Homo sapiens: one gene and its partners. The protein of the gene in region 1 purifies or fractionates together with the protein of each later gene. This does not show direct contact. Each region holds a gene or a part of one and is shown in the gene's direction. Other genes may lie near its edges.

Region 1 (4,280 bases):
GTCTACTAAAAATACAAAAATTAGCCTGGTGTGGTGGCGCACGCCTATAGTCCCAGGTTTTCAGGAGGCTTAGGTAGGAGAATCCCTTGAACCCAGGAGGTGCAGGTTGCAGTGAGCTGAGATTGTGCCACTGCACTCCAGCCTGGGTGATAGAGTGAGACTCTGTCTCAAAAAAAAAAAAAAAAAAAAAAAAAAAAACTGAAGGAATTATTCCTCAGGATTTGGGTCTAATTTGCCCTGAGCACCAACTCCTGAGTTCAACTACCATGGCTAGACACACCTTAACATTTTCTAGAATCCACCAGCTTTAGTGGAGTCTGTCTAATCATGAGTATTGGAATAGGATCTGGGGGCAGTGAGGGGGTGGCAGCCACGTGTGGCAGAGAAAAGCACACAAGGAAAGAGCACCCAGGACTGTCATATGGAAGAAAGACAGGACTGCAACTCACCCTTCACAAAATGAGGACCAGACACAGCTGATGGTATGAGTTGATGCAGGTGTGTGGAGCCTCAACATCCTGCTCCCCTCCTACTACACATGGTTAAGGCCTGTTGCTCTGTCTCCAGGTTCACACTCTCTGCACTACCTCTTCATGGGTGCCTCAGAGCAGGACCTTGGTCTTTCCTTGTTTGAAGCTTTGGGCTACGTGGATGACCAGCTGTTCGTGTTCTATGATCATGAGAGTCGCCGTGTGGAGCCCCGAACTCCATGGGTTTCCAGTAGAATTTCAAGCCAGATGTGGCTGCAGCTGAGTCAGAGTCTGAAAGGGTGGGATCACATGTTCACTGTTGACTTCTGGACTATTATGGAAAATCACAACCACAGCAAGGGTATGTGGAGAGGGGGCCTCACCTTCCTGAGGTTGTCAGAGCTTTTCATCTTTTCATGCATCTTGAAGGAAACAGCTGGAAGTCTGAGGTCTTGTGGGAGCAGGGAAGAGGGAAGGAATTTGCTTCCTGAGATCATTTGGTCCTTGGGGATGGTGGAAATAGGGACCTATTCCTTTGGTTGCAGTTAACAAGGCTGGGGATTTTTCCAGAGTCCCACACCCTGCAGGTCATCCTGGGCTGTGAAATGCAAGAAGACAACAGTACCGAGGGCTACTGGAAGTACGGGTATGATGGGCAGGACCACCTTGAATTCTGCCCTGACACACTGGATTGGAGAGCAGCAGAACCCAGGGCCTGGCCCACCAAGCTGGAGTGGGAAAGGCACAAGATTCGGGCCAGGCAGAACAGGGCCTACCTGGAGAGGGACTGCCCTGCACAGCTGCAGCAGTTGCTGGAGCTGGGGAGAGGTGTTTTGGACCAACAAGGTATGGTGGAAACACACTTCTGCCCCTATACTCTAGTGGCAGAGTGGAGGAGGTTGCAGGGCACGGAATCCCTGGTTGGAGTTTCAGAGGTGGCTGAGGCTGTGTGCCTCTCCAAATTCTGGGAAGGGACTTTCTCAATCCTAGAGTCTCTACCTTATAATTGAGATGTATGAGACAGCCACAAGTCATGGGTTTAATTTCTTTTCTCCATGCATATGGCTCAAAGGGAAGTGTCTATGGCCCTTGCTTTTTATTTAACCAATAATCTTTTGTATATTTATACCTGTTAAAAATTCAGAAATGTCAAGGCCGGGCACGGTGGCTCACCCCTGTAATCCCAGCACTTTGGGAGGCCGAGGCGGGTGGTCACAAGGTCAGGAGTTTGAGACCAGCCTGACCAACATGGTGAAACCCGTCTCTAAAAAAATACAAAAATTAGCTGGTCACAGTCATGCGCACCTGTAGTCCCAGCTAATTGGAAGGCTGAGGCAGGAGCATCGCTTGAACCTGGGAAGCGGAAGTTGCACTGAGCCAAGATCGCGCCACTGCACTCCAGCCTAGGCAGCAGAGTGAGACTCCATCTTAAAAAAAAAAAAAAAAAAAAAAAGAGAATTCAGAGATCTCAGCTATCATATGAATACCAGGACAAAATATCAAGTGAGGCCACTTATCAGAGTAGAAGAATCCTTTAGGTTAAAAGTTTCTTTCATAGAACATAGCAATAATCACTGAAGCTACCTATCTTACAAGTCCGCTTCTTATAACAATGCCTCCTAGGTTGACCCAGGTGAAACTGACCATCTGTATTCAATCATTTTCAATGCACATAAAGGGCAATTTTATCTATCAGAACAAAGAACATGGGTAACAGATATGTATATTTACATGTGAGGAGAACAAGCTGATCTGACTGCTCTCCAAGTGACACTGTGTTAGAGTCCAATCTTAGGACACAAAATGGTGTCTCTCCTGTAGCTTGTTTTTTTCTGAAAAGGGTATTTCCTTCCTCCAACCTATAGAAGGAAGTGAAAGTTCCAGTCTTCCTGGCAAGGGTAAACAGATCCCCTCTCCTCATCCTTCCTCTTTCCTGTCAAGTGCCTCCTTTGGTGAAGGTGACACATCATGTGACCTCTTCAGTGACCACTCTACGGTGTCGGGCCTTGAACTACTACCCCCAGAACATCACCATGAAGTGGCTGAAGGATAAGCAGCCAATGGATGCCAAGGAGTTCGAACCTAAAGACGTATTGCCCAATGGGGATGGGACCTACCAGGGCTGGATAACCTTGGCTGTACCCCCTGGGGAAGAGCAGAGATATACGTGCCAGGTGGAGCACCCAGGCCTGGATCAGCCCCTCATTGTGATCTGGGGTATGTGACTGATGAGAGCCAGGAGCTGAGAAAATCTATTGGGGGTTGAGAGGAGTGCCTGAGGAGGTAATTATGGCAGTGAGATGAGGATCTGCTCTTTGTTAGGGGGTGGGCTGAGGGTGGCAATCAAAGGCTTTAACTTGCTTTTTCTGTTTTAGAGCCCTCACCGTCTGGCACCCTAGTCATTGGAGTCATCAGTGGAATTGCTGTTTTTGTCGTCATCTTGTTCATTGGAATTTTGTTCATAATATTAAGGAAGAGGCAGGGTTCAAGTGAGTAGGAACAAGGGGGAAGTCTCTTAGTACCTCTGCCCCAGGGCACAGTGGGAAGAGGGGCAGAGGGGATCTGGCATCCATGGGAAGCATTTTTCTCATTTATATTCTTTGGGGACACCAGCAGCTCCCTGGGAGACAGAAAATAATGGTTCTCCCCAGAATGAAAGTCTCTAATTCAACAAACATCTTCAGAGCACCTACTATTTTGCAAGAGCTGTTTAAGGTAGTACAGGGGCTTTGAGGTTGAGAAGTCACTGTGGCTATTCTCAGAACCCAAATCTGGTAGGGAATGAAATTGATAGCAAGTAAATGTAGTTAAAGAAGACCCCATGAGGTCCTAAAGCAGGCAGGAAGCAAATGCTTAGGGTGTCAAAGGAAAGAATGATCACATTCAGCTGGGGATCAAGATAGCCTTCTGGATCTTGAAGGAGAAGCTGGATTCCATTAGGTGAGGTTGAAGATGATGGGAGGTCTACACAGACGGAGCAACCATGCCAAGTAGGAGAGTATAAGGCATACTGGGAGATTAGAAATAATTACTGTACCTTAACCCTGAGTTTGCGTAGCTATCACTCACCAATTATGCATTTCTACCCCCTGAACATCTGTGGTGTAGGGAAAAGAGAATCAGAAAGAAGCCAGCTCATACAGAGTCCAAGGGTCTTTTGGGATATTGGGTTATGATCACTGGGGTGTCATTGAAGGATCCTAAGAAAGGAGGACCACGATCTCCCTTATATGGTGAATGTGTTGTTAAGAAGTTAGATGAGAGGTGAGGAGACCAGTTAGAAAGCCAATAAGCATTTCCAGATGAGAGATAATGGTTCTTGAAATCCAATAGTGCCCAGGTCTAAATTGAGATGGGTGAATGAGGAAAATAAGGAAGAGAGAAGAGGCAAGATGGTGCCTAGGTTTGTGATGCCTCTTTCCTGGGTCTCTTGTCTCCACAGGAGGAGCCATGGGGCACTACGTCTTAGCTGAACGTGAGTGACACGCAGCCTGCAGACTCACTGTGGGAAGGAGACAAAACTAGAGACTCAAAGAGGGAGTGCATTTATGAGCTCTTCATGTTTCAGGAGAGAGTTGAACCTAAACATAGAAATTGCCTGACGAACTCCTTGATTTTAGCCTTCTCTGTTCATTTCCTCAAAAAGATTTCCCCATTTAGGTTTCTGAGTTCCTGCATGCCGGTGATCCCTAGCTGTGACCTCTCCCCTGGAACTGTCTCTCATGAACCTCAAGCTGCATCTAGAGGCTTCCTTCATTTCCTCCGTCACCTCAGAGACATACACCTATGTCATTTCATTTCCTATTTTTG
Region 2 (4,280 bases), on another chromosome or scaffold:
GTTTCTTCACAAATGTTGAAACTTCATTTTTGTTCTTTATTAAAACAAAAATGTGATCTTGTACAATAAGCTTTACAAAATCAAACAAAAATATGGATATATGTGCTTTTTCCTGGGGCAGCATGAGATTCTTTATATAGACATATCAGACGCCCCACACCAAAGCCATTGATACCTACCAGCAAACAGTGAGATTTCAGAAAACAGTATGTTAAAGTACTCAAGACATTGCACTCTTTGTTAGAAGAGAAACATTTTCAAATTGTATTTCACAGCCCAGGAGCCTGTATTCTCAAGATTTGGAAAAGAAGCTGATCCAGGGTTTCATTATTTTGGGGCAGCATGGATCTGATTAAAAAGCCCTGCTGTTGACCTTCAGCCAGGTTGCTCTTTACCTCAGTTGACTCATCTGAAAGATAAAGAAGTGGAATTATATCACTGTATTTCTGAGGTCTCTTTCCAGCTGCAGTTTCTCTTAATCTCCTATACAGGTTGAATATCTTTTATCCAAAATGCTTGAGACAAGAAATATTTTGGATTTTTGACTTTTTCAGGATATGGAATATTTATATGTACTACCTAATGAGATATCTTGGGGCTGGGACCTAAGTCAAAGTACAAAATTTGTTTGTTTTATATAGACCTTATACACATAGCCTGAAGTTAATTTAATACAATACTTTTCATAATTTTCTGCATGAAACAAAGTTTGTGTACATTAAACCATCAGAAAGCAAAGGCGTCACTGTGACCGCCCACTGGATTCACCTTGCCCGCTGCCCAGATGGAGCTGACTTACCAAGATGGGAATTGCAATAGAGAAAGAGTTTAGTTCACACAGAGCTGGCTAAGTGGGAGACTGGAATTTTATTACTTAAGTCAATCTCCCCCAAAATTCAGAGGCTAGGGTTTTTCAAGGATAATCTGGAGGGAGCTGGGGACTAGGGAGTGGGTGCTGCTGATTGGATGAGGTGCAATCATAGGGGTGTGGAAAATGGTCCTTGTGCCTGCCGAGTCTGCTTCTGCATGGATGGGTCCACAGGACAAGCTGGAGATCTGGATGGAGTCATCAGAAGTGCAGAAGCCTGAAAAGACATTACAAAAGGCCAATCTTACGTTCTGCAATGGTGATGTTATCTGCAGGAGTAATTGGGGAAGTTGCAAATCTGTGGCTGATTTGTTAGTCCAACAAAGGCAGTCTGGTACCCAGACAAAAAGAGGGTTTGTTTGGGGAAAGGGCTGTTACCATCTTTGTTTTAAAGTTAAACTATAAACTAAGTTTCTCCCAAAGTTAGTTCTGCCTATGCCCAGGAGTGAACAAGGGCAGTTTAGACGTTAGAAGTTAGATGGAGTCAGTCAGGTCAGATGCCTTAAACTGTCAATTTTGTCATTGTTAAATTTTTTGCAAAGGCAGTTTCGTCACTATCTCATGTTGGTGCTCAAAAAGTTTTGGATGTTAGGACATTTTGGATTAGGGATGCCCAACTTGTAATAGATGACATTTAATATTTATTTAATACTTATTTAATACTACCTAAATACTTGCAAATACCTGCAAAAACAAGGAGGGCCTGGACAAAAGTGAGTCTCCCTCGGTGCCACTGTATCTGCAGCACTGAGACTGTTTGGTGTAGATACCAAATAAATACCTGAGTGAACCAATAAATAAATGAATAAAAGGAGCTAGCACTGAGTAGCACATGGAGATCATTCCTTGGGGCTGCCTAGTTATCCTTTTCTATTACAAAGACAGAAAAGAGTTGCTTTGCGTTTAGGAATTTTTAAGTGATTTAGTCACTTAAAAACTTGAGTGATTTGAAAACAGTATGACTGGAGTTGATAAAACCTTTAAATCATTAAGGCTGAAAGGAACCTAGGACATTCTGGAATCAAATCCTTTCATGTCCCTGTTGGGGAAATCCAGGTGCCAGATGTTACAAGTATTTAAGTTAATAACTGGTTAAAAACTGACTAGGCATAGGTTAAGGCATAGGTCACTTAGCAAAACCCCACTAACAATGTTTAGTGGCTCTTCTGAGAAATGATATGTATGATCCAGTATCCCCCAGCACTTTAAGTACTCATTGTTGTATCTGTATATTTTTTAATAGAGAGAAAGTAAAAATTCATCAGTCTCATCACCAAACCAGTTGTGCCATAACACTCTCATAATTTGATGAATTCGTCTGTCAGTATCTATTTCTGTCTCTCTCTCTTGTTTGCTCACTGGCTCTCCTTCTGCCTCTACACACATATCCACTATATGCAATTCTGCAAACTATTTTATTTTCCCACAAGTCCAGGACATCATTTCTGTCAACATGTAAGATGCACACTCATGTTTTTAGTGGTCACAGAATATTTCATTTGATTCCTTCCTCATATTTAGTCATAAAGTTTCTCTTTTTTTTTTTTTTTTTTGCTATTATAAACAAAGCAGAAGTGAGCATATTTTCACATGTATATTTCATTCCTAATTGATTGCTGCCTTGAGATAAATTTCTAGAAGTAGAGCTGCTGGGTCAGAGAATAGGTGCATTCATATGTTCTTATCTGTGTTGAATGGCATTATGGATAATAGTCCATATTCTACTTACTAAAATGAAAAAGTATATATATCACCTTATATGAAAGATATAGGCCCCATACAGAAATTATTTTAATAATGGTATCTCAGATCAGTTGAAAGTTTCGCCATTTTAAGGAATTATTTTAAAAGGCGAGCATTACCTCCTTACTGTATTTATTTTGGAAGAACACAGTGCCTTCCTATGGGGTTCTTAAGGAGGGCTAGCTATAGCCTGAAGTGGGAGTCCACCTTATAGCCGAGACCAGAATATGGGAGCAAAGAGGTTAGCTGTGTGCTTGCTACTTCATGGATGCTTTAAGATAATTCTTGGCAGAATACACTGCTGATACCTATGCAGATGATAGCTTTTAATGCATGTCAGACATTCAAGAGTAGCTTGTCCCAGGGGCTTTATTTATGGCAAATCATGGTTCTCTCTATGAGATTTAAGTACATGGTTTTCTTTCCTTCTAGAAAAGCCGGCTGGGCGCGGTGGCTCACGCCTGTAATCCCAGCACTTTGGGAAGCTGAGGCGAGTGGATCACAAGGTCAAGAGATCGAGACCATCCTGGCTAATGTGGTGAAACCGTCTCTACTAAAATTACACAAAAATTTTAGCTGGGTGTGGTGGTACATGCCTATAGTCCCAGCTGCTCAGGAAGCTCAGGCAGGAGAATCGCTTGAACCCGGGAGGCGGAGGTTTCAGTGAGCCGAGATCTCGCCACTGCACTCCAGCTTGGCAGCAGAGCGAGACTCCATCAAAAAAAAAAAAAGCTAGTGCAAACATGGCAGTCTTTCAGCTTAGCCCCGCAGAAAAGAAAGTGATTTTCCCAGGAACTCTTATCTTATGTAGTCTGAACTTTAATGCAGAGCTGTCTGATAGTGTCGTAGCCGTGACGGAGAAGGCCGTGGGGCCTGGAATCTCCTTGCTGTGCTCTGTGGCCCCGGCCCTCTGTGGACGCGTAATGTGAGAGTTTTTAAAGAGTAACTTTCTTTTGTCCTTCTTTAAGATATAGACCCCAGTCCCTCCTTTAAAATATTGGCTCGTGCTGTAATTTCCACTTTGCCTTTTGCCCTTTGACCATCTGTGTGACAAGAAAGCCATTCCAATGGTTCAGTAAGCACCCGCTGAGGCTGGCTCCCCACAGGTCCAGCTCGAGGTGCTGGTGGGGACAGCCCACCCTCTGCTGTGTGCCGTGATCCCAGCTGGAGCTGCTGCACACCCAGAGGGAGCCGCCTCAGTCACACGCCAGCAGACAGGTGCAAATGGAGTGATGCAGACAGAAAGAAAGGAAATCACACCTCAAGATTTATTTTCTTTCTAGAAACACCCGCCGGGCAGCAGAGGTCTGGATGGATGAATACAAAAATTTCTATTATGCAGCAGTGCCTTCTGCTAGAAACGTTCCTTATGGAAAGTAAGTGGCAGTTCTGCCTTCTCACAATTACTGGGGATTCTTGGGGTGTGGGGGTGGGAGGTAAGGGGCTGCCCCCAGCGTTGAATTCAGCTACCCAGGTGCCAAGGCGGGAAGGGGTTGTGGGCACAGGAGCATGGGCAGTCCACACCACACCACCTGCCCCAACCCTGTTCTCCTCAGCAGATTTTCAAGTTTGATGTAGAAAGCCCATCTATTCTTAAAATTTATAAAGGAATCTTATTTCCCTCTTCTCCAGTATTCAGAGCAGATTGGAGCTTAGGAAGAAACTCAGC
Region 3 (4,042 bases), on another chromosome or scaffold:
TATCCAAATTTCTTATTGACAATCTGTGCCTTACTAATGTTAGACTATGAAATGTTCCTATGATAGTAGCTTCTTATCATAAATTATGTTCATGGCACTATGGAAGGGCCTATATGGAAAGCATAAATAAATGCAATACCAGTCACAAAGAGATACAGAACATAAGAGGACATCTTCCTTATTTTCTACCTTCTTTCTTCTGTGAGGGGAAAGGGAAGAGGTGTGAGTTTTGGCAGGAGATGGTATCATCAACTGAAGGAGAGTATATCAACTTAAGATTGTTTCCTGGAAATACAATTTTTAAATACTAAATGCCAGGTTGGTGAAAGCTGTTTCAAGTTTGAATACTTCTTTTTATAACCACTAGATGGAGCTTAAAGACTATCTTATATAATGCTATATGCTTTTAAAAACAAACTCTAAACTCGTTCATCTAGAAAAAAGAATAGATTTTTTATTCAGTTGGACAACCTTTCATGTACACTAATTACAGCTAACTAGTTTTCAAAGAATGATATATTTATACTTAATACTAAACTATAGAAAATAAAACTTTAAAGATTAAGAAGGAATCTAAATGTCGATACCATTGAGTAATGATATAAACAGGTTCTTTTGTTGTTTCTTGTTGTCTTCGGTGCTGTATTACAAATATAATTCCTTTATTTGTGACAATATAATTAAATCCTCAGTATCCATTCAGCAAATGCTTGAGAACCAACTCTGTGAAATACAATTTTCACATGTTTTGGAAAAGTTAAGCCTTGTAAATTAAATCTAATTTGTTCTTTAAAAAAAAAAAAGATAAAAGTCCTCGTTTTCACAAACTCATTTTGGTCACTTCGTCAATTATGTAGAGATTCTCCTATGTTCCTAGTTACAGAAGTATCAATTTTATTTTCTAGCTTTGGTACACTTTTCATGTTGGATTACGATGTGAGATTTTGAAACAACTGTTATAATTTACATTAAATATCATTTTTAAGTTGCATATATAAAATGGAATATCAAGAAAAGTTTAAACAAACAATGATTCAAGTTAGATTAGTAGATTAGATTCTGTAGTAGGATGAACCCACATAGGTAAGAGAATTTAATTTTTCCTTCTTAGACCCAAAAGCAACAATGAGTAACAGAATTTTTAACCACAACACATTCTTAATAGAAGGGTGTTTTTTTTTTTTTTTATCTTAGTACCTTGTTGTTAACTATCTTAAGATCTTTTCTTATTTTTGTAGGCTTCTGTTTTGGAAAATCTGAGGCTAGCGGTACGATCTCAGCTTGGATTTACTTCAGTCAGGCTTCCTATGGCAGGCAGATCAAGCAACATTTGGAACCGTATTTTTAATTTTGCAAGATCACGTCATTCTGGGTCATTGGCTTTGGTCTCAGCAGATGGAGATGAGGTTGTCCCTAGTCAGAGTACCAGTAGAGAACCTGAGAGAAATCATACTCACAGAAGTTTGTTTTCCGTGGAGTCTGATGATACAGACACAGAAAATGAGAGAAGAGATATGGCAGGAGCATCTGGTGGGGTTGCAGCTCCTTTGCCTCAAAAAGTCCCTCCCACAACGGCAGTAGAAGCGACAGTAGGAGCATGTGCAAGTTCCTCAACTCAGAGTACCCGAGGTGGTCATGCAGATAATGGAAGGGATGTGACAAGTGTGGAACCCCCAAGTGTGAGTCCAGCACGTCACCAGCTTACAAGTGCACTCAGTCGTATGACTCAGGGGCTACGCTGGGTACGTTTTACATTAGGACGATCAAGTTCCCTAAGTCAGAACCAGAGTCCTTTGAGACAACTTGATAATGGGGTAAGTGGAAGAGAAGATGATGATGATGTTGAAATGCTAATTCCAATTTCTGATGGATCTTCAGACTTTGATGTGAATGACTGCTCCAGACCTCTTCTTGATCTTGCCTCAGATCAAGGACAAGGGCTTAGACAACCATATAATGCAACAAATCCTGGAGTAAGGCCAAGTAATCGAGATGGCCCCTGTGAGCGCTGTGGTATTGTCCACACTGCCCAGATACCAGACACTTGCTTAGAAGTAACACTGAAAAACGAAACGAGTGATGATGAGGCTTTGTTACTTTGTTAGGTACGAATCACATAAGGGAGATTGTATACAAGTTGGAGCAATATCCATTTATTATTTTGTAACTTTACAGTTAAACTAGTTTTAGTTTAAAAAGAAAAAATGCAGGGTGATTTCTTATTATTATATGTTAGCCTGCATGGTTAAATTCGACAACTTGTAACTCTATGAACTTAGAGTTTACTATTTTAGCAGCTAAAAATGCATCACATATTCATATTGTTCAATAATGTCCTTTCATTTGTTTCTGATTGTTTTCATCCTGATACTGTAGTTCACTGTAGAAATGTGGCTGCTGAAACTCATTTGATTGTCATTTTTATCTATCCTATGTTAAATGGTTTGTTTTTACAAAATAATACCTTATTTTAATTGAAACGTTTATGCTTTTGCCAACACATCTTGTAACTTAATATACTAGATGTTAAGGTTGTTAATGTACAAAAAAAAAACCCTTATACTCACCTGCGTTTTCATTTGTTTGACATTTGTCTATTATTGGATTTCATTATCATATGAACTTGTCAGTGGGAAACAAACTGTCTAAAAATTTTTCTCTTACGTTTAACATACAATCATGTGAAATTTAGGCAGAGTTCGATAAATTACTGGCAAAAACAAAACTCTTTTATAAAGATTTTCTAATGTTGACTTTAATACTCTAACATGGTACAAACCAAATGGTAAAATCCCAAGTCATTTCTTTTTTCATCTCTATTTAGCAACAGAATTAAGTGGATGAAGATATTCTACTATGCATTAAATCTTGAACTTTATAAAACATGTACAAAAATTGTACAAGATAAGTTCCACCTGGTAATGTCTTTCCCTAATACAGGGTTGCGCTTGCATTGGACCCTAGGGATTTGCACTAAAATTATATCAAGGTCTCAGATGAGCTTAGTGCACAAGCACTATCACTTTAAATACTATTATTTGCTACCACAGCAACTATATATTTCCATAGCTTTTGGCTGGGGGCGGGGGACATTTTTATTACAACTTGAAATTGCTTTGCTGGTTTCATATTTATTTGTTGTATTTAAAAAATACATTGTTGTAAGAGTGATTTTTTCAATATATTTTATTCCTGGGGGGGATCATGCTACACTCTCAAAAGAAAATTAAGAAATCATTCAGATCATCCCCCCTTTTTAAGTAGTGTGAATTGCAAAACCCAACATATTTTTTTTACTGTCAGTTGCGGTTTATTTATTCTTTAACTGTCTGTTTTAGTAGTTTAATGATTATGAAAAATGTATCTGTGTGTGATTTGCTATTTATTAAATTTTAAGTACTTTGCTGAATGTCATTTTAAAGCATGTTTGAAGTCTTGTGTATTTGTCTGTGTTAATGCTGTCAGGAGGAACTGACTAAGATGTTTTAATATGTATCAAAAATTAAAATGATTTTTTTTATTGCCTTGAGGTACTTTTTAAATCAAAGCTGTTCTTTATTTGTTGAATTTTGGTGCATATACAAATTCAGGCCATAAAATATGCAATATATCTAGAATAAAAATGATTAGAAGGAGATCATTCCTTAACTACTTTATAGTAAAGTAGTAGCTTTTACCAGTACTCGAGGGTAAAATTTTCTAAGGACTTGAATATTATTTTGCTTGAGATTGCCCTTCAATTGATGTATCTCACAAGATGAGAGAGTTTAATTGATTAAACTGCCTTTTAATTGACGTATCTCACAAGATGCAGTAACACAATCAGTTCTCTTTTTAAATTGTTTTCACATACATTTTAGACCCCTATAATATATTCTACTGGCAGAATTTGGGTTACCAAATAATCTTTTATGCCCTAGTACTAATATATTATCAAGTACAAGGGTTTTGGTTTTCTAGCATATGTTTTAATTTATTATTTTAATTAACTAATACATCATCCTGGTTCAAACAGTAAAATGTAAATTCCTCTTCTATCCCA
Region 4 (4,280 bases), on another chromosome or scaffold:
GAGGCAAGAGGATCACTTGAGCCTGGGAGATCGAGGCTGTGGTGAGCCATGATTGTGCCATTGCACTCCAGTCTGGGCAACAGAGTGAGACTCTGTCTCAAAAAAACAAAACAAAAAAAAATCAGTTTTTATTAATTCAGTTACCTGAGCTGTTTTTATTCCAGTCCATTTCAACTGGCTTTCATGTTCCATTTCTCCATTCATCTCTTTGTTGGCTGAAATTCCTTCTCTAATCATTTCTTCAAGAGATGCTCATGGAAATTATATTTTCTGAACCTTATGTGTTCAAAAACATTTGGTGCCTACTGAAAGAAAGTTCAGCTATGTAAAATAATAATAGCTATGACTGAGCACTTTTTAAAGTCACAGGTGGTCTATACTTACACTATTTAATCCTCATAAGGATGCTGTAAATTAAGACCTATTAACATCCCCTTCACAGATGAGACTATTAGGACACAGGCGAGTCTCACTTCCTTCCCCAAAGCCTCCGCTGGCATTGCACCACTGTTGTCTACTATTGAATGTGGCTATGGAGAAATCTGGGGCCAATCTGATTGGTTTCCCCTTAAAGGTGCCTTGATCTTTTTGCCTGGATGCTCAAAGGATAACTTATTTTTGAAGTCCAGTGAACCTCAGTGGGATATGTCACAGGGGTCATTCTTGTCAGTTTTTCTTGGGACATTCATTGTATGTCCTTTCAATCTATAGATTAAAGTGTTTTAATTTATGTGAAGTTTCCCTTGAATTCTACTTTGAATATTTTTTCTTTTCCACTTGTTCCCATTCTCCTTCAGTTCCCATTCTCCTTCATATGGACATGGTGGATATACTTTGTCTTTTTTATCTATACATTTATCTTAAATTCATTTTATTATTTTTAAATTTCCATTTCATTTTGCTTGCATTTCTCAACCTTGTCCTCCAAAGTTTTTTGTTGTTGTTATTGTTTTTGTTTGTTTAAGACAGGGTCTCACTCTGTCACCCAGGCTGGAGTACAGTCGTGTGATCTTGGCTCACTGCAACCTCTGCCTCCCAGGCTAAAGCGATCCTCCTACCTCAGCCTCCCAAGTAGCTAGTACTACATATATGTGCCCCCAAACCCAGCTAATTCTTTTGTATTATTTGTAGAGATGGGGTCTTGCTGTATTGCCCAGGCTGCTCTTGAACTCCTGAGCTCAAGCGATCTGCCTGCCCAGCCTCCCAAAGTGCTGTTATTACAGGGATGAGCCACCACGCCTGGCCTAGTCCTCCTAAATCTTACTGTGTTTTATCCCTGTCTGTCTTTCCCCTCATTTATAATGTGGCTTTTATTTCTAGATGTTTTATTTTCCTTCCTGTCTGAGTTCTGTTAGCTTATTTTAAACTTCCTTCTATTGCCTCATCATTTCTTCTGCTTTGAAGTCTTATTTTAAACTGGTTCAGTAAGTCCTTTAAATTCATAACAATATGTTTGGTCTGTTTCATAGCAACATTCTTCTAGAAATTTTTTTCTTTTTTTTTGAGACGGAGATTCGCTCTTCTTGCCCAGGCTGGAGTGCAATGGTGTGATCTCGGCTCACTGCAACCTCCGCCCCCGCAGGGTTCAAGCGACTCTTCCACCGCAGCCTCCTGAATACTTGAGATTACAGGCATGCGCCACCACGCCCAGCTAATTTTGTATTTTTAGTAGAGGCGGGGTTTCTCCATGTTTGTCAGGCTCGTCTCGAACTCCTGACCTCAGGTGATCCACCTGCCTCGGCCCCCCAAAGTGCTGGGATTATAGGCGTGAGCCACTGCACCCTGCCTAGAAAATTTTTTTTATCTGACATTTGCTTTTCCTATTCCATTCTTCCTAATTCTTGTAGATTTGCTGTATAGATCTTTTGCTTGTTTGGTTTTGATTATTACTCATTACTGAGTGAAATGAGGTCTCCTTCAGCCAGCCATGTGCGGGAAGCAACTGGGCAGTGAACTGAGCTGGTAGTGAAGCTGCTTCTGGCCCTCTCTCCCAACCGTAGTTCATCAACAGACTGCCTCCAGCAAAGAGAACATTTCTGAGCATTTTATCATTCAGGCCTGTCTTATCTTACTATTTCATGGTGCCAAATAGAGTTCTGGGAAGTTCCCACAGCTTGTGCCCCTTAAATCTTTGTTGCAACCAGGATAATGGTTGTGCTCTGCAGATGTACCACCTACTTGGTGCTCTGCCAACTTTGTCTGAGAGTGGGGACCACAGCAGGTGTTTAATCTCAGCATACTTGTAGGCTCTGGTGTAATCTTCACTGAATTTGGCAGGTCATCCTCATTTATTGTGCCTAGGGTTTCATTGGTACCATATTTTTTCAGAGAGTGGATGGGTTTTTTTCCCTTTCTTGTTTTTGGGTGATCTCAAGGATGACAATGTGACAGAGGTAACTTTATTTTGTTATTCTAAACTTTATTTATTTTAAAACCAGAAGTTTTTTTTTTTTTTTTTTTTGAGATAGGGTCTCACTCTCTCACCCAGGCTGGAGTGCAGTGGCATGATCTCGGCTCACCACAACCTCTGCCTCCCAGGCTCAAGTGATTCTTCTGCCTCAGCCTCCCGAGTAGCTGGCATTACAGGCGCCCGCCACCACGCCTGGCTCATTTTTTTATTTTAGTAGAGATGGGGTTTCACCATGTTAGCCAGGCTGGTCTCGAACTCCTGACCTCAAATGATCCACCAGCCTCGGCCTCCCAAAGTGCTGGGATTACAAGCGTGAGCCACGGTGCCTGGCCTAAAACCGGAACCATTTTTAAAGATAGAGTGCCTCTATTCTTGGAAGGAGTAGGTAACATACCACCTTAGACCATGTCATGTGGGAAAAATAGTTTCAAAATTCTACGCACACCCCAGCAGCAACAAGCTTTCTCATAATCATATAGGTATAAGTAACAGAGCTTAGATCAAATCCAGGTCTGTCTAAGTCCAAAGCCTCAGTTCTTTTTGTCATAGAACTTACTCATAAAGGATATAGATATCTCTTTATGCTTCTTCTTGTGAATATTTTTCTATTAACTACTTTTTTATTTCCTGGTTTTTAGTGTGACAAGTACAAGACTGGAGTTATTGATGGGCCTGCATGTAACAGCCTTTGTGTTACAGAAACTCTTTACTTTGGAAAATGTTTATCCACCAAGCCCAACAATCAGGTATGGCCATTATGAATAAACATTCCAGAATTATAGTGTACTCTAATTTTACCAGAAATTAAAGGCATTATTAAAAGAATTCTTGAACCAAAGCTTTGAGACATTATATGTATTTCAATTTTGTATGCTTTGATTCATTCATTAAACAGACATTTATTTTATTTTAATTTTTTGAGACAGGATCTGTTGTCCAGGCTGGAGTACAGTGGTGAGATCTCTGCTCACTGCAACCTCCACTTCCCAGGCTCAAGTGAGCCTCCCACCTCAGCCTCCCATGTAGCTGGGACTACAGGCTCACACAACCACACTTGGCTAATTTTTTGTATTTTTGTAGAAACAGAGTCCCGCCATGTTGCCCAGGCTGGTCTCGAACTCCTGAGCTCAAGCAATCCACCCGCCTTGGCCTTCCAAAGTGCTGGGATTATAGATGTCAGCCACCACACCTGGCCAGTCAAAAGATATTTATTAATCTATCCCCAGTATATTCCAGACACTGTTTTGTTTTGTTTTTTTTTTTCTGTCAGCACTTTGATGTTAGATGCTGTTTCAGTTACCAGGAATACAATGGTGATTAAGGCAACCTGGTGCGGTGGCTCACGCATGTAATCCCAACACTTTGGGAGGCTGAGATGGGAGGACCACTTGCGCCCAGGAGTCTGAGACCAGCCTGGGCAATGTAGTGAGACCCTGTCTCTCCAAAATTTAAAAAAAATGCCAGGTGTGGTGGCACACACCTGTGGTTCTAGCTACTCAGGAGGCTGAAGTGGGAAGATTGCTTGAGCCCAGGAGGTTGAGGCTGCAGTGAGCTATGGTCCCACCACTGCACTCCAGCCTGGGTGACAGAGTGAGTGAGTGTCTCAAAAAATAAAAAATAAAAATAAAAAAATACAAACAGCCGGGCCCGTGGCACGGGCCTGTAATCCCAGCACTTCAGGAGGCCAAGGTGGGTGGATTGCTTTAGTCCAGGAGTTTGAGGCCTACCTGAGCAACATAGCAAAACCCTGTCTCTACAAAAAATACAAAAATTAGCTGGGTGGCCAGGCACAGTGGCATACACCTGTAATCCCAGCACTTTGGGAGGCTGAGGCGGTAGGTCACTTGAGGCCAGGCATTCAAGACCAACC
Region 5 (4,280 bases), on another chromosome or scaffold:
GTTGGAATCAAAATTAGTTTTTTTTGTGTTTGGTGGTGTTGGTGGTTTTTGTTGTTGTTGTTGTTGTTTTTTACTGTAGAAATACCCATTTCTCTTAGCAACATTTATTGAAAGGACCATCCTTATTTCTCTGCAGCACCGTCTTTGTCTAATTTAAGTGTCTGTATATATGTGGGTCCATTTCTAGACTCTGTTTTGTTCCATTGGTCTATTTTTCTACCTACCCTTGTGCCAGTCTTTGTTTTACCCCTAGCCTTATACTTTAAGTCTTGATAGAGTCAGTCATCCCACTTTCTCATTTCTCTTCAGGACTGTCTTGTATCTTGGCCTTTTGCATTTTCATATAATTTTTAGATCAACTTGTCAATTTCCACAAAAAAAAAAAAAAGTTCTGAGATACTGATTGGGATTGCCTTTCATCTACTGATTACTTTGGATGGAATTAACATTGTTACAATATTGACCTTGTTTACTTCTAATCTATGAACATGGAATGTCGTTATTTATTTATTTAACTTTTGAGACAAGGGGTCTTGCTCTGTGGCCCAGGCTGGAGTGCAGTGACATGATCATAGCTCACTACTGCCTTGAACTCCCAGGCTCAAGCGATTCTCCTGCCTCAGCCTCTTGAGTAGCTGGGACCACAGGCATGCATCACCACACCTAGCTAATTTTTAAAAACTTATAATAGAGACACAGTCTCACTATGTTGCCTAGGCTGGTCTCAAACTCCTGAGCTCAAGCAATCTTCCCACCTTGGCCTCCCTGAGTGCTGGGATTGTAGGCGTGAGCCACCATGTCCTGCCTCCTTCATTTATTTACATCATCTCTATTTCTTCTCTGTAGAGGTTTTACTTCTTTTTTATTAGATTTACAATCTCGGCTCACTGCAGCCTCCACCTGCTGGGTTCAAGTGATTCTCCAGCCTCAGACTTCCGAGTAGCTGAGATTACAGGCACGTGCCACCACACCTGGCGAATTTTTGTAGTTTTAGTAGAGACAGGGTTTCACCTTGTTGGCCAGGCTGATCTCAAACTCCTGACCTCAGGTGATCCACCTGCCTCTGCCTCCCAAAGTGCTGAGATTACAGGCGTGAGCCACGGCGCCTGGCCCTAGGTATATGCTATTCTAAATAGTGCCTTCATATATGCTATTCTAAATAGTGCCTTCAAAATGTGATTGGCTGTGCTGGTGTGTAGAAATACAACTGATTTTGTATTCAGAAAGTTTGCTAAATCTGTATGTTCTTTAGGATTTTAGTACATACACTCAGGTCTATGATAATGAGTTTTTCCTTTCCTCTGCAATCTTATTCTGTTTATGTCTTGCTGCACTTGGCTAGGACTTTAAGTTGAATAGACATGATAATAAACATCCTTGTCTTGTTAGATCTGAAATGAGTGTGTATGTACAGTCAATGAAGTAGAGGAGTAATACTTTTTTCCCCTAATTGTTAAACCAGTTGTTCAGTTGTCTTCCAGTCCTAGCTAATCATTACAGTCTCCTTTGGCATTTCTGTTTTTTCTTTATTTTTTCTTGGTAGAGATGAGACTTCACTATGTTACCTAGGCTGGTCTCAAAACTCTTGGGCTCAAGTGATCCTCCCACCTTGGCCTCCCAAAGTGTTGGGATTACAGGCATGCACCACCACACCTGGCTAATTTTTGTATTCCTTTTTTTTTTTGAGACGGAGTCTTGCTCTGTCTCCCAGCCATTCTCCTGCCTCAGACTCCCAAGTAGCTGGGACTACAGGCACCTGCCACCACACCCGGCTAATTTTTTGTATTTTTAGTAGAGACGGGGTTTCACCATGTTAGCCAGGATGGTCTCAATCTCCTGACCTCGTGATCCGCCCACCTTGGCCTCCCAAAGTGGTGGGATTACAGGCGTCAGCCACCGTGCCCAGCTTGTTTTTGTATTTCTAGAAGAGATGAGGTTTCACCATGTTGGCCATGCTGGTCTGGAATTCCTGACCTCAGGTGATCCTCCTGCCTCAGCCTCCTGAAGTGCTAGGATTACAGGTGTGAGCCACCTCGTCTGGCCCCTTTGGCATTTCTGACCCTTGCTTGCTCAGTGATGTGTATCCCTCAGTGTCTGGAGCACATTGTGAAGAAAAATGCAAGGTTTATGGTTTTTATTGTTTTAATTTTATTACTTTAACTACAGGTAAGGTCTTGCTATGTTGCCCAGGCTGGTCCGAAACTCCTGGGCTCAAGCAGTTCTCCTGCCTCAGTTCTGAAAGTGCTAGGATTACAGGTGTGAGCCACCGCACTCGGCCATCTATGTGCTTTTAAAGTTCCACAGGTGGCTAGGTGTGGTGGCTCACGCCTGTAATCCCAGCACTTTTGGAGGCCAAGGCAGGCAGATCACGAGGTCAAGAGATCAAGACCATCCTGGCCAACATGGTGAAACCCTGTCTCTACTAAAGATACAAAAATTAGCTGGGTGTGGTGGCATGTTCCTGTAGTCCCAGCTACTCGGGAGGCTGAGGCAGGAGAATCGCTTGAACCAGGGAGGCGGAGGTTGCAGTGAGCTGAGATCGCGCCACTGCACTCCAGCCTGGTAACAGAGCAAGGCTCCGTCTCAAAAAAAAAAAAAGTTCCACAGGTGACTGAGCCGTCCTTTGAGAACCAGTGAGGTAGTGTCAGGGATCTGAAGTGATTGAAAATGCCGCTTATATATTCAATCCTTGGATCCCTTTGATGAATTTTTGTATTCTGCTCTTTTATATGCCTGTAATCCCATGTTTTTTAAACCATTGTGCTCTGGCCTTTCTTGCTGTTTGAGCGTAACTTCAACTGTTATTGCCGTGAGCAGTCTTCTCAAGCTCCTCCTGGGCCCGGCTTCCTGATGGTGGCCTCACTGAACTGTTCTGCTGCTTACCACTTGTCTGAAGCTTCCTCTTTTCCCTTTTTGAACTCTTATTAAGCATTGCTGGCTTCCTGTTTGTACTTATATGATGTAGCTGGTACTGGGTAAGAAATCACTAGCAGCTTTTCAAGTAGGAAAGACGGTCTGAGGTGACAGTTTAGTGGCTTTGTAATTAGGCTCAGCACTTACGAGACTATTTGCAGTGTCCGCTCTGTGCCATCTACTTTGCTGCTGGTCTGTGGAGGAAGCAGAGATGAAAACACCGTCTTTGCTGTCAAGAACTCACCTGGTGGAAGAGGCAGATGTATGGATAATCATCACATGATGATAAATGCCATCGTTGTTGCAAAAGTCATAAACGTTACGACAGCATATTTTTAAAATGAAGTTAGTAAATTAAAATAGAAAATTTAATAGAAGCAAGACTAAATTAGTTTACTGGGTTATCTTCTTTAATTTACTTCTATCCTCTCCGTAGACAGTCTGGCACAGGTTTGAATGTGTCCTGGCTCTTCATTACTGAGGCTAACGTTCCACCTAATATATGCAAAAGTGTGTCCATCCCTTCTACCTTTATTCGCATTCCATTACTTTTATAGACTTTTCTTCTTTTGCTTTCATAATTAATACTGGCAGTTGACTTTCTTTTCAGGGGTCTTTCTTCACAAACAAATTTTTTTCATTTTCTTTTCTTTTTTTTTTTTTGAGACAGGGTCTCACTCTGTCACCCAGGCTGGAGTGCAGTGGGGCAATCTCAGCTCACTGCAGCATCCTGAGTAGTTGGGACCACAGATGCAAACCACCACACCCAACTGATTTTTCAGTTTTTTTGTAGAGACAGGGGTCTCGCTATGTTACCCAGGCTGGGCTCAAATTCCTGGGCTCAAGCGATCCTCCCACCTTGGCCTCCCAGCATGCTGGGATTACAGGCATGACTAACCATTTAACCATAAAGAATGTTTTTTTAGTCACTTGAAAAGAGACTTTGTCGTGTTGAGGGTCAGATGCTAAGTTATCAGCAGGCTCAGTCATGTCCCTCTTGATTTTTAGCTCTGGAAGAGAAATGGCCCCAGTTCATCACCCTTCTCTAGCCCAGCCTCCTCCCGCTCCCAGACACCGGAGAGGCCAGCAAAGAAAATAAGGTACTTGGCATTCTCCTGCAGTTTTCATTTGCTGCGTGGACAGGCGGGGGTGAGGAAAGGTGGGAAACGAACCTGGCTCTTAGGCTTTGTGCTGCTGTGACTTGGAGAATCAAAGAAACTTAAGTCCCTGAGAGGTACAATGCAGTACCCACCCGAAGTGCTGTCATCCCTACAGTCTTGGATACTGACTCCAGTGGCCTCTGGCTGTCGCCTCCCACTCCAGCATGAGGGATCGGGTGCAAGCACAGAGGCCATGCAGAGTGGAGA
Region 6 (4,280 bases), on another chromosome or scaffold:
TTGCCCCCTCCTGGGTGTGCTGGGAAGGGGTCTTTGGCCCTCCAGGGGTTAGGTGCCCCAGCCTCCAAGGTGCCCTCACGCCTTTTCATCCCGACTCAGATGCTGACCTGACCTTTGACCAGACGGCGTGGGGGGACAGTGGTGTGTATTACTGCTCCGTGGTCTCAGCCCAGGACCTCCAGGGGAACAATGAGGCCTACGCAGAGCTCATCGTCCTTGGTGAGTGGGCCTGGGAAGGGGGAGGCATGGCCCTTCCTTTTGTCCGCTTCTGTTCTGTCTGCCCTCCCCTGTGTCCGCCCTCTGCCCTCCAGCTTACCCTCTGGGCTCTGTCGCCTGCTCTGCTCTCCCCCAGGCTCTGCCAGTCACTTAGGCTCCCCTGTGCCCTGCACCCCAGGCAGGGACCACTGGCCCACAGTGCCTCCAATCACCCAAGCCAAACTAAGAGAAGAGTGGAGACAATTGGAGACTCTGCCTTTTCAAAGTCTCATTTTTAAAAAAAATCCAGACTTGGGGTCCGGGTGCGGTAGTTCATGCCTGTAATCCCAGCACTTTGGGAGGCCGAGGCGGGTGGATCACTTGAGGCCAGGAGTTCGAGACTAGCCTGGCCAACGTGGCAAAATCCCGTCTCTATAAAAAATATAAAAGCCAGGCGTGGTGGTGCACATGCCTGTAATCCCAGTTACTCAGAAGGCTGAGGCATGAGGATTGCTTGAACCTGGGAGGCAGAGGATGCAGTAAGCCAAGATCAAGCCACTGCACTCCAGCCTGGGCGACAGAGTGAGACTCTGTCCAAAAAAAAAAAAAATCCAGACGTGGTCAGAGTCCATGGGCAGTGAATGAGGACAGTTGATGGTGTGCAAAATCGACCCACCTCTTGCTACATCCCCAAGGCCTCATCTCACCCGAGTCCCTCGCCAAAGCACAGCGGTTTTGCCGTGTGCCCTGCTGGGATGGCGCTGCATGGCACACACACTGTGTAAGTTTGAGTGCAGCTGAAACGAAGCCGATTCCAGACACCCAGGGGCAGGGCGGGGTGTCCGTGTGGCTGGGAGGCCTCCTTGTGTTAGGGGGATGTTGCCATCGGCCAGGTGCCCTGCTGTAAGCCAACACATGGAGTCTTGTATGACATGTGCTCTGCATGAGTGATGCCGCTGGGCTGTACACTGCCATCTTCACATGTGTGAATGAGCACGTGACTGGGGGGTACTTGGGCTGCAAGACAGAGTTCATGTGTGGGGGATGGAACACGTGCACCAGTGACCCAGGAACCTCTGCCTGTTCTTCGGTAAAATGCACCATTTGCATCAGCAGTTCCCAAAATTAGTCTCCAGGTCTATTTACACTCTAAAACATTATCGAGGGTCTCCAAGAGCTTTTGTTTGTTTCTGTGGGTTTTATGTCTATCTGTTGCTTAACATATTAGGAATTAAAATGGGGAGATTTTCCTTTTTTTTTTTTTTTTTTGAGATGGAGTCTCGTTCTGTCGCCCAGGCTGGAGTGCAGTGGCTCGATCTCGGCTCACTGCAAGCTTCACCTCCTGGGTTCACGCCATTCTCCTGCCTCAGCCTCCCAGGTAGCTGGGACTACAGGCACCCGCCACCACACCCGGCTAATTTTTTTTGTATTTTTAGTAGAGACTGGGTTTCACCATGTTAGCCAGGATGGTCTCGATCTCCTGACCTCGTGATCCACCCACCTGGGCCTCCCAAAGTGCTGGGATTACAGGCATGAGCCACTGCCCGGCCTTAAAATGGGGAGATTTTTCAAGCCCAAGATACACAAGGAAGACTGGGCAACATGGCAAGACCCTGACTCTACAAAAAATTTTAAAATTAACCAGGCATGGTGGCATGCACCTGTGAGCCCAGCTTCTTGGGAGGCTGAGGCAGGAGTATCGCTTGCACCCAGGAGGTCAAGGCTGCAGTGAGCCGTGACTATGCTACTGCACTCTAGCATGAGTGACAGAGACCCTGGCTCAAGAAACACAAACACACACACACACACACACACGCATATAGTCCATTAGGCATCAGGGCGATGATGGCATCAGGGAGCCTGGGAAACTCTACTGGACATTCATGGGAGAACAAGTGAAAAAGGCAAATAACATCTTAGTGTTATTCTAAAATTTCTTCTTTTGGCCTTGTGGACAGGACCACGCTTTGAGAGCTGTGACTGACATGCCTCTGTCCTGTTGCGAGGGCCTATAGTGCCAAGTGCATGAGCTCTGGGGAGGGCTTCGTGGGTGCAGAGCTGGGCCTGTGGAGGCCCCTCAGACACAACACTGGTGGGGCTCAGAGCTCCAGGGGCACTCGAGGGAAGACAAGAACCGGCTCTGAGATGCGTGAATGTGACAGTGCATGAGTAGAGATGGAGACCTTGTGGGTCCCAGAACCAGGACTGCATATGACTTTCATATGTGGGTATTTTTGCCTTCATGGGTCCCTTCCTGTTTTAAAAAAAATGTGTGATTATGTTGTCACAAAGAGTTTATTCCTGTATATTGTGTTAATTTGTGTTCAGATTTGTAAAGTAAAATTAAACCATTTCAGCCAGGTGTGGTGACACATGCCTGTAGCCCTAGCTACTTACCCCAGAGGCTGAGGTGGGAGGATCGCCTGAGCCCACGAGGTTGAAGCTGCAGTGAGCCATGATCACACCCCTGCACTCCAGACTGGGCGACAGAGCTGAGATCCTATTTCGTGGGCCCTAGGTCCCTGTGCCTGCTGGAACAGGACATCCCTATCACCGTGGTTGGAGCCCTTTGGGGTGCTAAGACCTATGAATGAGGGAAACTTAGGGTGCCCAAGCTGAGGTAGAGCCCTCAGAACCCCCTGGGATTTGTATTGGAGCCCTCGTGGCATAACACAGGTGGATTATGCAATGGGAGTTTCTTACCTATAAGCACCCACATGTGGGCGGGTGGAGGGTAGGAGCCATGCACTAGGGCTTCAGCCCCCAGCCCCTTCCCGCTTCAGGGCACACCTTGCACTTGGCCAGCCTGGAGCTGGGCTTTCGGGGGTGGCACAGCCTGGGCTGGCTCTGGCCAGCATAATCTGTTTCTCTTTTGTCCCTCCAGGGAGGACCTCAGGGGTGGCTGAGCTCTTACCTGGTTTTCAGGCGGGGCCCATAGAAGGTACGGGGGGTGGATCCTGAGTTGGGCTTCTCGGGAGCTCCCATACATCACCTACTGCTTCTGACTCTAGTTAGTATCCCCTTCCCCACTAAACCCTGCTCACTGTGGACCCCTCACTAACCTGGCCTGACTGTGGCTCTGAGGCATCTAGTGGTCTGGCGCTGGGCCTAGGCTAGGCTGGGCTGAGGAGAGCCTGGGGTGCAGGCCAGGGCTCTGTGACTGGCACCTGCGGTGCTCTTGAGGGTGTGGCGTCTGGGCAGCTGGCTCTCTCTTTGGTCTGGGGGCTGCAGTCTGTCTCCCTCTGTGCAGGCTGCCTCGTTTTCTGCCTTGTGTTTTTTGCACCTGGGGGAGGGCCGTAACTGGGGAATGGCCGGGATGGTAGAATGGGGAGTGTGCTGTGCCCAGCCTCTGGCACAAAAAATCCAGCCAGGGCTGCAGGTTCCTTGGTGAGCTTTGCAAATCGTCCCCGACCTCAGTGCTGGCTCCGCACCATGTACCCCTGCTGTGCCGTTAGCCCTGTTCCCTCCCAGGCCTCCGGGCTCAGGGCCTGTTGTCTTTCTGCAGACTGGCTCTTCGTGGTTGTGGTATGCCTGGCTGCCTTCCTCATCTTCCTCCTCCTGGGCATCTGCTGGTGCCAGTGCTGCCCGCACACTTGCTGCTGCTACGTCAGGTGCCCCTGCTGCCCAGACAAGTGCTGCTGCCCCGAGGCCCGTAAGTGTCCCGCTCATGGCCACCCTGGTTTGGGCAACATCCTGCATCCAAGGGAAGGAGGTGGCCATCCACCTGCCCCCAGGACAGTGGCGTTGGTCTGGAGGGTGTGAATTTAGCCAGTGGGGAGAAAGTAGGCTGAGGAGGGTCTGCTGTTTAGATTGTCGTTTACTTCCTCCAACTTTTAGTTTATTTTTATTTATGTTGTTCTTTTCTTTTGTAAGTATAATCCATACACATGGTAAAAATGTCCAACAGTACAAGATACTAGTCACATGGAAGTAAAGCCCTCTAAAAAAACCAAATCTTGGCTAGGCGCAGTGATTACGCCTGTAATCCCAGCACTTTGGGAGGCCAAGACGAGTGGATCACTTGAGGTCAGGAGTTCCAGATCAGCCTGGCCAACATGGTAAAACCCAGTTCTCTACTAAAAATA
Region 7 (4,280 bases), on another chromosome or scaffold:
CTGGCAAAAATTCTTCATAATTTATCTTCTGGAAAAGGTGAAGTGCTGCAGTTGGCACAGTCAGTGGTTTTTTCGATCTTGGACTATTTCTCCCCACACCAACTGTAGTCTTTGGGAAGCAACAGAATTAGACCCAGAAGTTAACACTGTCGTGTCCCAGCAATATGCGTTTCCAGTAGGCTGGAGATCATGGCTCTGTGCATTCGCTTGTGTTCTTTGAAGGCTGATTTCTCCACAATACTCTGTATTGTGTCACTAAGCAGCATGATTCAAGTTTAAGTAAAATGTTCTGGGACCTTAATTGCATCCTGTTTCACACCTTTACAAGCAGCTGGAATGTGAAAATATTTACCTCACTTGGGATATTTCATAGGAGTGGAGAAGAACCCGTGGCTACTGTTGCTCTGTCTAGGATGAATTTGGCTTAGAATAGCGAAGAGTGGAATTGTGCCTAAGGGTTCCGGGCACATTTCAGAGTGGGTGCTACCTTGGAATCCTAATGAAATAGAGATAGTGGGCAGACAGATGAGTTACTTCTTGGAGCTTAAAAGTGACTCCAAGCCAAGAATATTCTGATAATGGCTCTTCCTTGCTCTTCTTTAGAGCTGGACTAGACAGAACTCCCCAGCTTATGGGCCTCAGTAAGGGACTCACATGGATTTCAGGTGGGTTGTCATGATACTGATACCCACAGGGCAGGAGCTGCCTCTAAATCCAAAGGCCTGCGTACCCAGAGAGCTGTACAGATACTGTCATTTCCTGTGTGTGCTATGATTTGACGAAGGATGGCAGTTCTCTCCTTCACTTGGTGAACTACAGCCCTTTAGCCCTAGCTTTGGAATGAGCTGTTTGAAGATGCAAGGTGAGAAGCTCAGTAACACGGCTAGCAGCTCATTTATTCAGCAAATATTGAGCAAGCGCCTACTATTACACGCCGGGCATTGTTCTGAGGATTGCTGTATGAGCAGAGCAGACTCAGATCTGCCCTCAAAGAGTTGGACAAAATGCACTAGATGTCAGAAAGTGGACGATTGAGATGAGGGTCAAGGGCAGGTTCTTGGAAATGCCTGCAGTGAGGAGACAGGAAATGAAAGGGAGAGTTCTAGGAGTAGTCAGGGAACGGAAGAAGTACTGGGAGAGCACGCTGTCGGAAGCCAAGCAGAGATGGGTGTGAGTGGACTTGTTAAAGAGGGATTGGTCACATGCTGCTACAGAACTGGAAGGATAAAGACAGAGAAGCCCTTGGATATGGGCACTGTGAAGTCTGCCCAGTGAAGGAGGAAGGGAAATCACAGAACTTGAGAAGTGGGTGGGGTGGGGAAGGAACTCTGAGTCAGAAACGATCGCCCACCTTTTCAAGTGGTGTGGAGCAGAAGACCACTGTGAGGGTAGTGGCTCAGGGCACGGCAGAACCAGATCAACTTAAACAGGATCCAGGCGTCTCTAAGCAGGCCCACAGGCCAGCTGGGAGACTCTGGTGGCAAAGGACAGGCTGAAGAGCAGTGAGCAGGCATGACTACTGGGTGTGGACTCCAGAGAAGGTGGCACAGGGGGGTTGGGGTGCAAATAGAAGCCCTAGCCTTGAAGAGCCAGAGAGGAGGGAAGGGAGAGGGAGAGGAGAGCATGGAGAGAGCAGTTTGATATGGCATGCAGTCTCTGCAGTGATCTCAGACTTTTCAGCCCTAAGAGTAGCCCCAAAGCTTCCCCAGACATGCTAGTTAGAGGTTTTCTATATGTTCCCTTGTTCCCTGTCTCTCTCTTTTTAGGACAGGGTCTCACGCTATCACCCTGGCTGGATTACAGTGGTGCAATCACGGCTCATTGCAGCATGAAACTCCTGGGCTCAAGCAGTCCTCCCACCTCAGCCTCCTGAGTAGCCAGGACTGCACAACCAGGCCTGGTTAATTTTTTATCTTTTTCCTAGAGGCAGGGTCTTGCTATGTTTCTCGGACTGGTCTCAAACTCCTGGCCTCAAGTGATCCTCCTGCCTCAGCCTCCCAAAATATCGTTAGCCACTGCGCCCGGCCTGTATGTTCCCTTTCTTTATCTGCACACATATAAAGTTTCCTCTGTGTCCCTCTGGATGTCTTCTTCTGTGTTGATTGGTGGAATTAACTTACTCTCTGATAGCTTTTAGGTCTTTGGCTGTTAGGCAGAATCTCTAGCACAGGGACTCTTGCATTTTATAATCCATCTTTCTCTTATTCACATTAGCTAAGAAGATTTTAATAGTTTGTATTACAAATAAACCATTACATGTGTGTTTTTAAAATCTACTTCTGTTCTTTATACCCTTCCAGCCTTACTTCATCTCCCAATTAAAAGAGGAAAAAATAGGATTCAGGCTTCAGAATCAGCCTTTCATTTGAATCCTGTCTTCCCTCAGTGTGAACCTTGGACAGGTTTTCTAACCTCTTTGAATCTCACTTTCTGTCTCTGTGAAATGGGAATAATACCTCTCTTGGAGGTTTTTCCATGAAGATTAAAAACAATATATTTAGAAGAATGCAAACATTAGTGTATGTAAGTTCCTAGAACTCTGCTACCCCAACTGTGTTCTGTGGACCACCAGCATTGGCAGCACCTGGGGGAATCTCAGGTCCAAACTTGTGAATCAAAGTTTGTATTTGAACAAGATCCGCAGGGGATTCAAATGCATGCTAAAGTTTAAGAAGCATGTCTGGAGGAGGTTTGGCATACAAATTACTTGGTAGTCTGGGCTTTCTCAGTGGGACTGAGGCAAAGCCATGGTCAGAGTCTGAGCTGGAGGAGAGTGGGCTGGGGCTGGACCCCACGGGAATGTGACAGTCATTCAGTTAGCAGTGAAGGATGGAGGATAGCATAGGTCTGTAGTAAAGGCAGTGGGCCTAGTTTCGTGGCTTTATCCCACCAAGTTTGGCAGCCTAGGAGGGACAGCATCATGTGGTCTCTCCATGGAATGAGAGTGGAAGGATGAGTGATAAAGGAACCGAGGGAACTGATGAGAACATCACAGGAAAGATTAGCCAAGGAGTACACGTGGGATAGGCAGGTGAGTGGGGCTTCCAGGCTTGATGCACCTGCAGAAGGTTTGAGGGCCTGGAGGGCATGATGATGGCATAAAAGCAGATTCTGAGGTGCAAGGGAATGGGTAGTCTAGGAAAGTAGGAGGTGAGGATCAAGAGAGGTAACTTCTGAGTTCAGGGTTTTGGCAGCAGAGATCTAAGGGGAGATAGGCTGGATGGCTAGTAGTGACATAAGCATTTATTCAGAGTTTCTGCCTCTTCCACCATTTTGGCTGGTTGAGCTAATATCTGACTGGGTTGGGCCTGAATGGATTAGGAGAGAGGGGTGTGACTTAGAAGCATTAGCCCTAGGCGTTGTGGGGAAAAGGCAGTAACCTATGACTAAGATGAATTGGGGGTTGGGGACCAGGTGCGATGCAAGAGAAACCAATATGAGGGTTCTTTCCTTCCCAATAAATTCCTGTCTACCTTTTTTGTAGCATTTATTTTGTGCCAGGCACTACGCTTTTCTTTTCTTTTCTTTTTTTTAAAGAGAGGGGGTCTCTGTCACCCAGGCTGGAGTGTAATGTTGCAGTCATAGCCCACTGCAGCCTCAACCTCCCTGGCTGAAGTGATCCTCCCACCTCAGCCTCCCCAGCAGCCGGAACCAGCTAATGCACTTTCCATAGATGAACTTATTTAGGAGGCTTCATAGCCCCATGAGAGTAGGCACTGTTGTTACCCCTGTTTAATAGATGAGCAAACTGAGTCACAGAGGTGAAGTCACTTGCTCAGGGTCACAGTGTAAGTGGCAGACTTGGGATTCAAACCCAGGTAGTCTGGCTCCAGAGTGTGGGTTCATAACCACAGTACACTAGTCTGTCTTTCCATGTTAGTCAAAATATATCTTTGAAAACACTGAAAGGAATTGATATAATTAGCTAAATTGTGATAACATTTGTTTCCTTGTCTTTCAAGACAGGAGGCTTGGATTTTGGCCCTTGTCCTTCTACTCACTAGTTTTGTGACCTTGGACAAGTTGCTGAACAGCTCTCAGCCCCTGTAAAATAAGGGTTGGGCTAGCTGATCCCAAAGGTCTCCCCTTCCATCTCCAGAATTCTTTGAGTTCATGCTGACCCCTGCTGTTGGCCATGTGGCCTCTTGGCCCAGCCCTGGCTTCCTGCCCATCTTCTGAGCACTCCTTATAATCCTGCAGCCTGTGCCTGTTGTCTCTCACCTGGCTGGTGCCTCTTCACAACAGTGGGTTGGTGCCTCTGAGGGCTCTGGAAATTGTTC

The links.
Region 2: the proteins of HFE (region 1) and GALNT2 purify together in Homo sapiens (affinity purification with mass spectrometry; one large-scale study listed by BioGRID and IntAct). This does not show direct contact.
Region 3: the proteins of HFE (region 1) and LRP12 purify together in Homo sapiens (affinity purification with mass spectrometry; one large-scale study listed by BioGRID and IntAct). This does not show direct contact.
Region 4: the proteins of HFE (region 1) and DIPK1A purify together in Homo sapiens (affinity purification with mass spectrometry; one large-scale study listed by BioGRID and IntAct). This does not show direct contact.
Region 5: the proteins of HFE (region 1) and POM121 purify together in Homo sapiens (affinity purification with mass spectrometry; one large-scale study listed by BioGRID and IntAct). This does not show direct contact.
Region 6: the proteins of HFE (region 1) and LSR purify together in Homo sapiens (co-immunoprecipitation; 2 studies listed by BioGRID and IntAct, with this or other methods). This does not show direct contact.
Region 7: the proteins of HFE (region 1) and PTGFRN purify together in Homo sapiens (affinity purification with mass spectrometry; one large-scale study listed by BioGRID and IntAct). This does not show direct contact.

What each region holds. Positions count from the first base shown.
Region 1 is NC_000006.12:26,090,274-26,094,553, forward strand, and holds part of HFE (hereditary hemochromatosis protein isoform 1 precursor), read left to right. Parts: intron 1-449; exon of another isoform or gene 450-567; coding exon 568-831; intron 832-1,040; coding exon 1,041-1,316; intron 1,317-2,335; coding exon of another isoform or gene 2,336-2,368; intron 2,369-2,411; coding exon 2,412-2,687; exon of another isoform or gene 2,688-2,753; intron 2,754-2,845; coding exon 2,846-2,959; intron 2,960-3,912; coding exon 3,913-3,953; 3' UTR 3,954-4,130; coding exon of another isoform or gene 4,131-4,138; 3' UTR 4,139-4,280. UniProt on the Homo sapiens protein: Binds to transferrin receptor (TFR) and reduces its affinity for iron-loaded transferrin.
Region 2 is NC_000001.11:230,258,679-230,262,958, forward strand, and holds part of GALNT2 (polypeptide N-acetylgalactosaminyltransferase 2 precursor), read left to right. Parts: exon of another isoform or gene 1-409; intron 410-799; exon of another isoform or gene 800-903; coding exon of another isoform or gene 904-1,085; intron 1,086-3,894; coding exon 3,895-3,987; intron 3,988-4,243; coding exon 4,244-4,280. Other genes in the region: uncharacterized protein LOC124904542, read right to left, coding at 904-1,085. UniProt on the Homo sapiens protein: Catalyzes the initial reaction in O-linked oligosaccharide biosynthesis, the transfer of an N-acetyl-D-galactosamine residue to a serine or threonine residue on the protein receptor.
Region 3 is NC_000008.11:104,488,736-104,492,777, reverse strand, and holds the end of LRP12 (low-density lipoprotein receptor-related protein 12 isoform a precursor), read left to right. Parts: intron 1-1,238; coding exon 1,239-2,105; 3' UTR 2,106-3,542; downstream 3,543-4,042. UniProt on the Homo sapiens protein: Probable receptor, which may be involved in the internalization of lipophilic molecules and/or signal transduction. May act as a tumor suppressor.
Region 4 is NC_000001.11:92,849,724-92,854,003, reverse strand, and holds part of DIPK1A (divergent protein kinase domain 1A), read left to right. Parts: intron 1-3,048; coding exon 3,049-3,156; intron 3,157-4,280.
Region 5 is NC_000007.14:72,934,669-72,938,948, forward strand, and holds part of POM121 (nuclear envelope pore membrane protein POM 121), read left to right. Parts: intron 1-3,921; coding exon 3,922-4,013; intron 4,014-4,280. UniProt on the Homo sapiens protein: Essential component of the nuclear pore complex (NPC). The repeat-containing domain may be involved in anchoring components of the pore complex to the pore membrane. When overexpressed in cells induces the formation of cytoplasmic annulate lamellae (AL).
Region 6 is NC_000019.10:35,258,846-35,263,125, forward strand, and holds part of LSR (lipolysis-stimulated lipoprotein receptor isoform 2 precursor), read left to right. Parts: intron 1-99; coding exon 100-219; intron 220-225; exon of another isoform or gene 226-976; intron 977-2,153; exon of another isoform or gene 2,154-2,557; intron 2,558-3,079; coding exon 3,080-3,136; intron 3,137-3,700; coding exon 3,701-3,847; intron 3,848-4,280. UniProt on the Homo sapiens protein: Probable role in the clearance of triglyceride-rich lipoprotein from blood. Binds chylomicrons, LDL and VLDL in presence of free fatty acids and allows their subsequent uptake in the cells.
Region 7 is NC_000001.11:116,915,884-116,920,163, forward strand, and holds part of PTGFRN (prostaglandin F2 receptor negative regulator precursor), read left to right. Parts: intron 1-4,280. UniProt on the Homo sapiens protein: Inhibits the binding of prostaglandin F2-alpha (PGF2-alpha) to its specific FP receptor, by decreasing the receptor number rather than the affinity constant. Functional coupling with the prostaglandin F2-alpha receptor seems to occur.